Homo sapiens: one gene and its partner. The protein of the gene in region 1 purifies or fractionates together with the protein of each later gene. This does not show direct contact. Each region holds a gene or a part of one and is shown in the gene's direction. Other genes may lie near its edges. The genes, in order: ACADS and DPEP1.

Region 1 (4,871 bases):
TCACGAGGTCGGGAGTTCAAGACCAGCCTGGCCAAGATGGTGAAAACCCGTCTCTACTAAAAATACAAAAATTAGCTGGGCGTGATTATGGGCACCTGTAATCTCAGCTACTCGGTAGGCTGAGGCAGAGAATTGCTTGAACCTGGGAGGAAGAGGTTGCAGTGAGCCGAGATCTGCACTACTGCACTCCAGCCTGGGCAACAGAACAATACTCTGTCACAAAATAAAATAAAATAAAATAAAATAAAATAACATGTTTGCAGGAATGAGATTGTATAAAAGGGCTCGTGAAAAGCAACGGTTCCCTCCCGTCCCCATCCCTGTCCCCGTCCCTGTCCCTGTCCCCGTCCCTGTCCCTGTCCCTGCTCTCCCAGAGATAAGTGGTTTTACTTGTTCCTTTTTGAAGTTAGGTAGATTCTGTGGTCCACATTTCCCATATTACTCACCTGAAAGTAATAATACTATTATTATTATTTTGTTTTTGGTAGAGATGGGGTCTTGCTATGTTGCCCAGACTGGTCTCGAACTCCTGGCCTCAAGCAATCCCCTCACCTTGGTCTCCCAAAGTGCTGGGATTACAGGTGTGATCACTGCTCCTGGCCCACTCTTAATATGATTATTACCCAGAATTAAGAGTCCCAAGCTCTTATCCTTCATTCATTCTCTCACTGGCCTTGGGCATGTAGCAGTGAGCAAGAGCACACACAGTCTGTGCCCTCGTGGTGAAGGCAAAAGACCTTAATCCAGAGAAGCACGTTCATCCCTGAGAAATTCCAGCCGCAGAAGTGCTGCAGGAGAGGGACTGAAGGATTTGACTCAGCGAGGCTGGGGATGGCAGCCCAAAGCAGCGAGGCCTGAGCTGCGATCAGAAGGAGAGGAGGGGCAATAACCAGCTGAGGGATAGGAGGTGGCATGTGCAGAGGCCCTGTGGTGGGGAGGGTGCGTGTGTGTGGATGTGCAGAGGGGGCTGGACGAAGGTCAGTGTGGCTCACGCTGTCCTGCTCCTTACCTCTGAGTTCCCTGAAAGCATCCTGTGCCTTCTGCTTGCTCGCTGCCGTGGCTGTGGACGGAGCGGGGAGCAGGCGTGGAGGCGGGGGCAGGACAGCTTGAATGAGAAGTGCCATCATATAGACCTCAGTGGGACTGGGTCTTCAGCTTCTGGACTTGGGGATCCCTTGTGCGTGGCTGGGGTCACATGGCCTGAGTTTCTGCAGGGCACTGCCTCGGGGGCAGGAGGGTTTGGGCTTGGGGAGGGTGGGCTCGCCCCCGGCAGCTGCCCATGGCGTGCCGTCCTTCCCTGTGCCCAGGTGAAGAAGATGGGCGGGCTTGGGCTTCTGGCCATGGACGTGCCCGAGGAGCTTGGCGGTGCTGGCCTCGATTACCTGGCCTACGCCATCGCCATGGAGGAGATCAGCCGTGGCTGCGCCTCCACCGGAGTCATCATGAGTGTCAACAACGTGAGCCCCCTCCCAGGCCCCTGGGACACACGGGTGGAGGGAGGCTCCCGTGAGCGGGCAGGCTCTGGCCTCGGCTCCCAGCCCTGATCTCTCTGGAGACGTCACAGGCCTTGGTCCTACTGGGTAGGCCCTGGACAGAACAGGCCCTGAGGTGCAGCCCGCAGGTGGGCAGGATGCGCCTGGGCCTGGGGCCTCCGACCGCTCCCCGCTGTCCTCCTAGTCTCTCTACCTGGGGCCCATCTTGAAGTTTGGCTCCAAGGAGCAGAAGCAGGCGTGGGTCACGCCTTTCACCAGTGGTGACAAAATTGGCTGCTTTGCCCTCAGCGAACCAGGTACCTGCCCTGTCCCCTCACCTGTCCTTAGGGTGACAGGCCCAGAGGGGAGGAGAGGAAGGTGCTAGGCCAACTGCCCACTGCTTCGGAGGCCAGAGGGGAGGCTCCCCGTGTGGTTGGTAGGGTGAGCGCTCTTGCCACCGCGGCGCTGGGAGGAAGATTGCCTTCGGGGTCCCCTGGTTTAAGACGCCAGCTCCTGCACACCCCCCTCGCCCTCTGGTCCCATCACTGAGAGCTTTGGGACCCTCATCTTTGGAGCCCGAGTCATAGGGTTTCGTGTCTGCCAGCAGGGGTGTGGAGGGAGTGAGGCTGGTGCCCTTAGGTTGTGTGGGGTGGGGCGTGCGCTGAGCCCTGGGTCTGTGTGGGCAGGGAACGGCAGTGATGCAGGAGCTGCGTCCACCACCGCCCGGGCCGAGGGCGACTCATGGGTTCTGAATGGAACCAAAGCCTGGATCACCAATGCCTGGGAGGCTTCGGCTGCCGTGGTCTTTGCCAGCACGGACAGAGCCCTGCAAAACAAGGTGGGCCCACCCAGAGAGGGGTTCAGCCGGATCCTGGGCTGCTGTCATTTCTGTTTCTAGGGCCTTCTCTCCTTGGCCCGACTGGACCTATTTTTGCTCTGGGGCAAGTGGGCTGTCCCTGTCCCTCCTCAGCTGCCACTGAAGCCTGCACCTTCCCCAGAAGCCGGCAGAGGGTGTCAAGGCCTGAGCTTCTGAGGGAGGTGGGGAGGGGACCGGGTTGGTGTTGGGTGTGCTGGTGTGAGGGTGTGGCTGAGGGGCAGCTCTGAGAAAACCACCCGCCTCTCCTTTCAGGGCATCAGTGCCTTCCTGGTCCCCATGCCAACGCCTGGGCTCACGTTGGGGAAGAAAGAAGACAAGCTGGGCATCCGGGGCTCATCCACGGCCAACCTCATCTTTGAGGACTGTCGCATCCCCAAGGACAGCATCCTGGGGGAGCCAGGGATGGGCTTCAAGATAGCCATGGTGAGCCCGGCAGTGGGGGTGGCACCTTGAGGCCAGGCCCGCGCCCCGGCTGGCGGGCCACTGACCAGGGCGGTCCCCACAGCAAACCCTGGACATGGGCCGCATCGGCATCGCCTCCCAGGCCCTGGGCATTGCCCAGACCGCCCTCGATTGTGCTGTGAACTACGCTGAGAATCGCATGGCCTTCGGGGCGCCCCTCACCAAGCTCCAGGTCATCCAGGTAATGGTGGCAGCTTTAGGAGCTGGGCCTAGAGGCTGGACAGCGGGCGGAGAGTGTGGCCTCCTGACTGCTCTCCGTCCTCCTCCCCCTCCCTTCTGTCCCCTGGAGGGGCAGCTGCTGACCTGTGGTGTGGGGTGGGGCTATTGCAGTTCAAGTTGGCAGACATGGCCCTGGCCCTGGAGAGTGCCCGGCTGCTGACCTGGCGCGCTGCCATGCTGAAGGATAACAAGAAGCCTTTCATCAAGGTGCCCACAGGGGTCCCCGAGCCATGGCCCAGAATGTGGTGGGCCCAGGGACGGGGAGAGGTTGGGGCGGGTCTCTGCTCCTTGGCCCCGTGGGTCAGAGGTGTGGGCCTGGGGTTTACAGCCCCATGGGGAGGCTCCACAGGCCTCCCCTGCTGAGGGAGTGGGGGAGCAGGGGATGGAGGGGTCCCCTCAAGGGAAGGCTCTGACTGTACCCCCATGTTTAGGAGGCAGCCATGGCCAAGCTGGCCGCCTCGGAGGCCGCGACCGCCATCAGCCACCAGGTGAGTGTCCACAGTGAGCTCTGAGGGGGCCAGCTGCCCCTTCTCCAGCTTTCCCCACGCCGGGGTCTTCTCCCTCCTGAGCCACTGTTCTCATCTCAGGCCATCCAGATCCTGGGCGGCATGGGCTACGTGACAGAGATGCCGGCAGAGCGGCACTACCGCGACGCCCGCATCACTGAGATCTACGAGGGCACCAGCGAAATCCAGCGGCTGGTGATCGCCGGGCATCTGCTCAGGAGCTACCGGAGCTGAGCCCGCGGCGGACTGCCCCAGGACTGCGGGAAGGCGCGGGAGCCAGGGGCCTCCACCCCAACCCCGGCTCAGAGACTGGGCGGCCCGGCGGGGGCTCCCTGGGGACCCCAGATGGGCTCAGTGCTGCCACCCAGATCAGATCACATGGGAATGAGGCCCTCCGACCATTGGCAGCTCCGCCTCTGGGCCTTTCCGCCTCCTCACCACTGTGCCTCAAGTTCCTCATCTAAGTGGCCCTGGCCTCCTGGGGGCGGGGTTGTGGGGGGGCTGAGCGACACTCAGGGACACCTCAGTTGTCCTCCCGCGGGCCCTGGTGCCCTGGCATGAAGGCCCAGTGCGACAGGCCCTTGGTGGGGTCTGTCTTTTCCTTGAGGTCAGAGGTCAGGAGCAGGGCTGGGGTCAGGATGACGAGGCCTGGGGTCCTGGTGTTGGGCAGGTGGTGGGGCTGGGCCATGGAGCTGGCCCAGAGGCCCCTCAGCCCTTTGTAAAGTCTGATGAAGGCAGGGGTGGTGATTCATGCTGTGTGACTGACTGTGGGTAATAAACACACCTGTCCCCCAGTCTGTGTCCTCGCCCTCTCCTGGGTGCTCCGGGGAGGGATGGTGGTCTCTGCACAGAGTCCTGCTCTCTGACAGTCTCACCCTGTGAGTGTTGGGGGTCTTGGGGAGGGGCCTGGCCACCTGGGAGGTTCCTGAGTTCCGGCAGAGGCCAGATTGGCCAAGGAGGCAGTTCAGGAATAGGAACTGGGTCCTGCAGGCCTCAGGGAGTGGCCCCTGGGGAGGGAGGGTGGGCCAGGCAGGGCCAGTGGGCTAGAAGGGGTTCTCTACGCAGGACCAGCCTCCAGGCAGGAGGAAGGAAGGCCCCAGATTGCCAGAGTCGGGGAGCAAAGCTGTGGAGGCCTCGAGCCCCAGGTGGGAGAACACAGAACCTCGAGAAGCAGCCATTGTGCTCACTAGCGCGCTCGGGGGCGGCCCTGGCCAGCCAGTGCGGGGGCTTGCCCTGGTCCTGGTGCCTGCAGGGCTTTCTCTGGGCAAAGGTGCCCCTGAAGCCAAGGTCCAAGCTCTTAACCCTCTGGGCCAGTGTCGATCTCAGCAGCTGGAA
Region 2 (7,188 bases), on another chromosome or scaffold:
CAGATGAACAATGGGAGACGCGTCTGCATTCCGTTTGGTAAACCTCAGAAGAGAACAGAGTGTAGCTGAGTCCAAGCAGATCTGCTTCCCTGACGGGAGCGGGGCGGAAAAGAACACAGCAAACCTTGGAAACCGCCCTCCGGAGACCAGACGCACAACCCCCAAGAAAACACGAAAGAACCGTGCTGGGAGACAAAACAGAGGAAATGGAGTGCACAGGATAAGCAGGAAGAAAGCCAGGACAGGAGGCAGAAAGGAAGCTCAGACAGTGCAACCCCTGCCTGAAACCCTGGCCAGACGGAGCTCAGAAAGGAGGGGAAGAAGAGGGATACGGGCGACTGGAAATTCCCTGGACCGGAGGCAGAGGAAACGCTCCAGGGAGTGAAAAAGCCTCACACTAAAGCACGTGGCTGAGAAGTCGTGGCGCTCCGAGGAAAGAGGCAGCTCCAGGCCTGGAGGGAACAGCGGTTGCCCACACACAGCCGGGCCCATCCACCACACATGCACAGACGGACTGTGGTGCGGTCACCTCCTGAGGGACAAAGGTTTCCCGCCCAAAGTGCACATCCAGAGAAACTACTGATGAGGGCAGAATAAAGACAGACAGGAGGACTGGGGAGTGAATTCCTGCCGACCCGCTGCTAGGGAATGGTTGCAGGGCCAACTCTAATGGAATAGGGTTTAGTCTGCTTTGCATTGCTCCAAAGAAATCCCCGAGGCTGGGTCATCTATAGAGAAAAGGGGTGGGTTTGGCTCATGGTTGTGGAGGCTGAATGGGAAGCGTGGCACCAGCGTCTGCCTTTGGTGAGGACCCCAGGGAACCTCTCATCACGGCAGAAGGGGAGGGAGCAGGTGTCACTGGAAGGATGGCCTGGACCGTAATAGTCCATGTCCTCGGCGTTTGAACAAAGAAGTGGACAAAACGTGCAAAGTAACGAACAAAACACGGAAAGAAAGCAGCGAAAGCAGGGATTTATTAAAGCGAGAAAGGTCGGGAGTGGGGTGAGAGGGGCGCTGTTACATAGTTTTCTGGGGTTTGTTTTTTTTTTGTTTTGAGAGGGAGTCTCACACCGTCGCCCGGGCTGGAGTGCAGTGGCGCCATCTCGGCTCACTGCAACCTCTGCCTCCCAGGTTCAAGCGATTCTCCAGCCTCAGCCTCCGGAGTAGCTGGGATGACAGGCGCCCGCAACCACGCCCGGCTAATTTTTGTGTTTTTAGTTGAGACGGGGTTTTTCTTTGTTGGCCAGGCTGGTCTTGAACTCCCGGCCTCAGGTGATACACCCGCCGCACTCTCCCAAAGTGCTGGGATGACAGGTGTGAGCCACCCCCTCGGCCAGTTTTCTGGGTCTTAAGGGCACCTTTCATGGTTCCTATACCTCTTATCTGGATGAAAGATTTGGTCCGTGGCTAATCAAAGGCTGAGGTAAACTGGTGTCTGCAGATGAAAGGGTGGCCCGCAGCCAGTCCACAGCACTTTCCTTTCCATCTGGGACATGGTGGTGGGGGCTGTACGAGAGCAGCCTTTGATCCTTTGCTACTGGGCGTGGGGCTCTTCCTCAGGGTGTAGTTTTTGGAAGTTGGTGTTAATTGGCCCTGGGTTCCCTGCCCCAGACCTTGAAGTTTTTCCTGGATTCAGCGTGCTTTGGCCTCGGACTCTCTCCCCCTGACCTTGGTGTTTTCTCTTTTAGGAAGTCAGCACAAATTAGCGTCCCATTCCCTGCCCCAGGCCTCGCTGTTTTTCCTTGATTCAGCACGAATTGGCCTAAGTTCCCTGCCCCCAGACCCTATTCTCCTGCTCCCAGGGCATCACGTGCAGAGAGGGAGGCAGAGAGTGAGGGGGGAGGTACCAGGCTCGTTTTAACCGTCAGTTCTCTTCCCAACGAACTCATTACCTCCAGAACTGCACCAAGCCATTGATGAGGGGCCCGTCCCCATGACACAAAACCTCCCAACTGGGATCCAGTTTCCACGTGAGATCTGGACAAACATTCAAACTCTATCAGGACTATAAACCAAACAAAGGTGGAAGACCTTCAGTGCAGGCATTAAGTGAGCACTGACATTCCAGGCTGGGAGTAGCAGGTTGGACGAGGGGAGGCTCTGGGGGCAGGGAGGGAGGTTGCAGAGTCCAGAGCTTGGAAGATGGAAGATAAGGGCACCCAGTGTAGGGCAGGAGAAGAAAGGCAACTGGAAACTCTGGGACAAACTATAAAACCCCACGGAAAAGACAGGTGTAAGGTGACTACCTTGATCCGAGGGTGATCTGAGTGGCTGGTACCTTTGTGCTCACAGCAGGACTGTCGTAAAGTAGGTACATCCATGACTTCTACTTGACAGACGAAGAGACTGAGGCCGAGAAATTGAACCAGCTCACCCACGCTGCCCTTGAACAGTGGTCGTGAGAGGGGAACCCACAGCCTACCAGGACACGGGGCCCTGCCCAACCCCCAGGACGCCCTCGTGTTGAATTAAGTCCGTGGCTTTGAGCCTCAGAAACGGTGCAAAATGCAGTCCACGCGTGGCTTTCGGCCCCGGTCTGGTGCTCGGAAGACATGTGCCTCCCTCTACCTGCCCCCCGTCCTCCCGCCACTGTGAGGCCCTGAGAGGCCCTGAGATTCTTGCGATGTGTGAATAAGGGTGCCGCATTTTCATGTTGCACTGGGCACTGAATGGTGGAGCTGAGTGATGCGGTTTGGTTCTGTGTCCCCACCCAAATCTCATCTCAGATTATAATCCCCACCTGTCAAGGGAGAGACCCGCTGGAGGTGAGTGCATCGTGGGGCCATTCACCCCATGTTCTCGTGGTAGCGAGAAAGTTCTCACAAGATCTGTTTGTTGTTGTTTTTGTTGGTGGTGGTGGTTTTTAAGACGGAGTTTCACTCTTGTTGCCCAAGCTGGCTGGAGTGCAGTGGCACAATCTTGGCTCCCCGCAACCTCCACCTCCCGGGTTCAAGCAATTCTCCTGCCTCAGCCTCCCGAGTAGCTGGGATTACAGGTATGAGCCACCGCGCCTGGCTAATTTTGTATTATTAGTAGAGATGGGGTTTCTCCATGTTGGTCAGGCTGGTCTCGAACTCCGGACCTCAGGTGATCCACCCGCCTCGGCCTCCCAAAGTGCTTGGATCACGCGGTGGCGTGCGCCACCGCACCCAGCCTAAGATCTGGTTTTTAAAAGTGTTTGGCAGTCCCCCCCTCAAACTCTCTCCCCCGCTGCCATTTAAGACATGCCTTGCCTCCCTTTGCCTTCGGCCATGATTGTAATTTTCCTGAGGCCTCCCCAGCCATGTGGAACTGTGAGTCAATGAAGGCTTTTTTCCTTTAAAAATTACCCAGTCTTGGCCAGGCGCGGTGGCTCATGCCTGTAATCCCAACAGCTTGGGAGGCCGAGGCGGGTGGATCACTTGGGGTCAGGAGTTTGAGACCACCCTGGCCAACATGGTGAAACTGTCTGTAGTAAAAATAAAAAATTAGTCAGACGTGGGGCCAGGTATGGTGGCTCACACCTGTAATCCCAACACTTTGGGAGGCCGAGGCGGGCGGATCACGAGGTCAGGAGATCGAGACCATCCTGGCTAAAACGGTGAAAACTTGTCTCTACTAAAAAAAAAGAAAAAAAAGAAAAAAATTAGCCGGGCGTGGTGGCGGGCGCCTGTAGTCCCAGCTTCTCTGGAGACTGAGGCAGGAGAATGGCATGAACCCGGGAGGCAGAGCTTGCAGTGAGCTGAGGTTGCGCCACTGCACTCCAGCCTGGGCAATAGAGTGAGACTCCGTCTCAAAAAAAAAAAAAAAAAGTCAGATGTGGGATCAGGCATGGTGGCTCACACCTGTAATCCCAGCACTGTGGGAGGCCGAGGAGGGCACATTATTTTAGGTCAGGAGTTCAAGACCAGCCTGACCAACATGATGAAACCCTGTCTCTACTAAAAATACAAAAAAAATTAGCTGGGTGTGGTGTGCGCCTGTAATCCCAGCTACTCCGGAGGCCGAGGCATGAGAATCAGTTGAGGCAGAGGTTGCCGTGAGCCGAGATTGTGCCACCGCACTCCAGCCTGGGTGACCTACTGAGACTCTGTCTCAGAGAGAGAGAGAGGAAGGAGGGGAGGGGAGAAGAGGGAAAGGAAGGGCAGGGGAACCCAGTCTTGGATATTTCTTCTTTTTTTTTTTTTTTTTTTTTTTTTTTGAAACGGAGTCTTGCTCTGCCACCCAGGCTGGAGTACAGTGTTGCAATCTCGGCTCACTGCAACCTCCGCCTCCCTGGTTCAAGTGATTCTCCTCCAAAAGCCTCCAAGTAGCTGGGATTACGGGCAAGGGCCACCATGCCCAGTAAATTTTTGTATTTTTAGTAGAGAAGGGGTTTCACCATGTTGGTCAGGCTGGTCTCAAACTCCTAACCTCGTGATCCTCCTGCCTTGGCCTCCCAAAGGGTATTTTTGTTTGTTTTTGAGACGGAGTCTCGCTCTTTCGCCCAGGCGGGAGTGCAGTGGTGCAATCTCGGCTCACTGCAAGCTCTGCCTCCCGGGTTCATGCCATTCTCCTGCCTCAGCCTCCCAAGTAGCTGGGACTCCAGGCACCCGCCACCATGCCCGGCTAATTTTTTTTATTTTTGGTAGAGACGGGGTTTCACCATGTTAGCCAGGATGGTCTCGATCTCCTGACCTGGTGATCCACCCGCCTCGGCCTCCCACAGTGCTGGGATTACAGGCGTGAGCCACCACACCCGGCCACAAAAGGTATTTCTTTCTTTCTTTCTTTTCTTTCTTTTTTTTTTTTTTTTGTGAGATAGAGATTTACTCTTGTCGCCCAGGCTGGAGTGCAATGGCGCGATCACAGCTCATGGCATCCTCCACCTCCCGGATTCAAGCGATTCTCCTGCCTCAGCCTCCCGAGTAGCTGGGATTACAGGCATGCACCACCATGCCTGGCTAATTTTTGTATTTTTAGTAGAGACGGGGTTTCACCATGTTGCCCAGGCTGATCTCGAACTCCTGACCTCAGGTGATCCGCCCGCCTCAGCCTCCCACAGTGCTGGGATTACAGGTGTGAGCCACCTTGCCCAGCCCCCAAAGGGTATTTCTTTATAGCAGTGTGAAAATGGACAAATACAGTGGCCTCAAGTTCTCTCCTTAGTGGCACCTGAGGGAGTGTGGTGCTCTTGGAAATGCTCTCCTGTCACTCAGTTTCTGCCTCTGAAGCGACAAGCAGAACATGGATGTTCTCAGAGTCCAGGGCTGTGTAGATAGTATTGGAGCTGAAGGCAAAAGGAAAAATCAGAATATTGGGCCTGTCTTTATTTTAAAGGTTTGTGGGGGAGGGGGGGCGGTTTGTGTTTTGTTTGTTTGTTTTTCTGAGATGGAGTCTTGATCTGTTGCCCAGGCTGAAGTGCAGTGGCATGATCTTGGCTCACAGCAACCTCCGCCTCCCGGGTTCAAGTGATTCTCCTGCCTCAGCCTCCTGAGTAGCTGGGACTACAGGTGCGCACCACCATGCCCAGCTAATTTTTGTCTTTTTAATACAGAGAGGGTTTCACCATATTGGCCAGGCTTGTCTTGAACTCCTGACCTCAAGTGATCCATCCGCTTCGGCCTCCCAAAGTGCTGGGATTATAGGCGTGAATGACTGTGCCCAGCTATTTTAAAGTTTTATACTTTGTTCATTATGGATTTTTTTTACATGAATTCTGATTTTTTTAAAATATTGAATGAAAATACGATTTATCATGACCTGGGCATGGTGGCTCATGCCTGTAATCCCCGCAGTTTGAGAGGCCAAAGCAGGCAGGTTTGCTTGAGGCCAGGAGTTCGAGACCAGCCTGGGAAACATGGGGAAGACCCCATCTCTACAAAAAATACAAAAATTAGCCAGACGTGGTGGTGCACGCCTGTGGTCCCAGCTACTCAGGAGGCTCAGGCAGGAGGGTTGCTTGGGCCCAGGAGGTGCAGGTTGCAGTGAGCCGAGAGGGAGCCACTGTCCTCCAGCTGGGGCGATCCTCCTTCCCTGCCGGGCTCCCCCCACCCCCCCCCGAAGCCTCTGACCAGTTTTCCCTCCTGCTCCTCCCAGCAGGCCTGGTTTAGCCCCAGTGCTCAGCCCACTGTCCCCCAGAACCCCAGACACCACCCAGCCCTGGGATTAAGATTCTTCCGTCAGGGCACCACCTGGGAACTGTGTGCCCAGGAGCCCTCGGGCGACTTGAATGTGCTCTGCTGAGTCCTAGAGAGGCCCCGGTTCTAAGGACGTGTCTAGCTGCTTGGCCTGAAGCTCTGTAGCTGGAGTGTGGGTCCCTGTGACGCTGGAGGGCTGCAGGCCGGGGGTGCGGACCCCTCAGCAACAGGGCAGGCGCCAGGGGCACACCTGGCTGTGCAGCAGCTTCCTGGAACGCCCTAATGTTTATCCCCCATGGCAAGTCACGTAAGATGATTTTTACGTGGAAAGGGGTGCTTTATGAGAATGCACTATTTGAATGACTGTTGTCTTGCTTGCAGATCTAGGCCCCCGGGTCCTGAGGGAGGTGGTAGTAATAACAGTAGCACAGCTAGAGCCAACAGCCACTCACCACTCATCTGGGCCTGCTCTCAGCCTGCTGTCCTTTCATCTGGGCTCTAGCTCCACCCCTGGGTCTGGGATCCCAGCTTCTTACTATGCCTCCGCCTAGCCCAGACAGCAACGCCCAGTCATTGAGTGTCCGGCCTTCCATCCTACCCACCCTGGTGGGGAATGTGCTGGTTACTTATTGAACATGGGAAGCTATAAACAGGAGAGCAGCCACCTGTCATCACTTCCACCCACACCTCTGGTGCCTCTCCTGGCAGGCAGAGTGGCTCCTCACAGCCTGAAGCTCATCCTTCTGCACGGGCCAGCCAGGCCAGCACAGAGGCACCAGGGCAGCAGTGCACACAGGTCCCCGGGGACCCCACCATGTGGAGCGGATGGTGGCTGTGGCCCCTTGTGGCCGTCTGCACTGCAGACTTCTTTCGGGACGAGGCAGAGAGGATCATGAGGGACTCCCCTGTCATTGATGGGTGAGTGCTCACCTGAGCCAGGTGCTTAGGGAACCAGGACTGGGAACTGGGGCTGGGAGAGCGGGGCTGGGGGAGCCGGGGCTGGGGGAGCGGGGCTGGGGGAGCCAGGGCTGGGGGTGCCGGGGCTGGGGGTGCCGGGGCTGGGGGAGCCGGGGTTGGGGGTGCCGGGGCT

Evidence for each region.
Region 2: the proteins of ACADS (region 1) and DPEP1 purify together in Homo sapiens (affinity purification with mass spectrometry; 2 studies listed by BioGRID and IntAct, with this or other methods). This does not show direct contact.

The regions. Positions count from the first base shown.
Region 1 is NC_000012.12:120,735,679-120,740,549, forward strand, and holds the end of ACADS (short-chain specific acyl-CoA dehydrogenase, mitochondrial isoform 1 precursor), read left to right. Parts: intron 1-1,307; coding exon 1,308-1,457; intron 1,458-1,677; coding exon 1,678-1,789; intron 1,790-2,158; coding exon 2,159-2,310; intron 2,311-2,370; coding exon of another isoform or gene 2,371-2,510; intron 2,511-2,601; coding exon 2,602-2,772; intron 2,773-2,854; coding exon 2,855-2,992; intron 2,993-3,141; coding exon 3,142-3,237; intron 3,238-3,461; coding exon 3,462-3,518; intron 3,519-3,617; coding exon 3,618-3,770; 3' UTR 3,771-4,330; downstream 4,331-4,871. UniProt on the Homo sapiens protein: Short-chain specific acyl-CoA dehydrogenase is one of the acyl-CoA dehydrogenases that catalyze the first step of mitochondrial fatty acid beta-oxidation, an aerobic process breaking down fatty acids into acetyl-CoA and allowing the production of energy from fats.
Region 2 is NC_000016.10:89,623,499-89,630,686, forward strand, and holds part of DPEP1 (dipeptidase 1 isoform a precursor), read left to right. Parts: intron 1-5,456; exon of another isoform or gene 5,457-5,471; intron 5,472-6,771; exon of another isoform or gene 6,772-6,806; 5' UTR 6,807-6,912; coding exon 6,913-7,016; intron 7,017-7,188. UniProt on the Homo sapiens protein: Hydrolyzes a wide range of dipeptides including the conversion of leukotriene D4 to leukotriene E4. Hydrolyzes cystinyl-bis-glycine (cys-bis-gly) formed during glutathione degradation.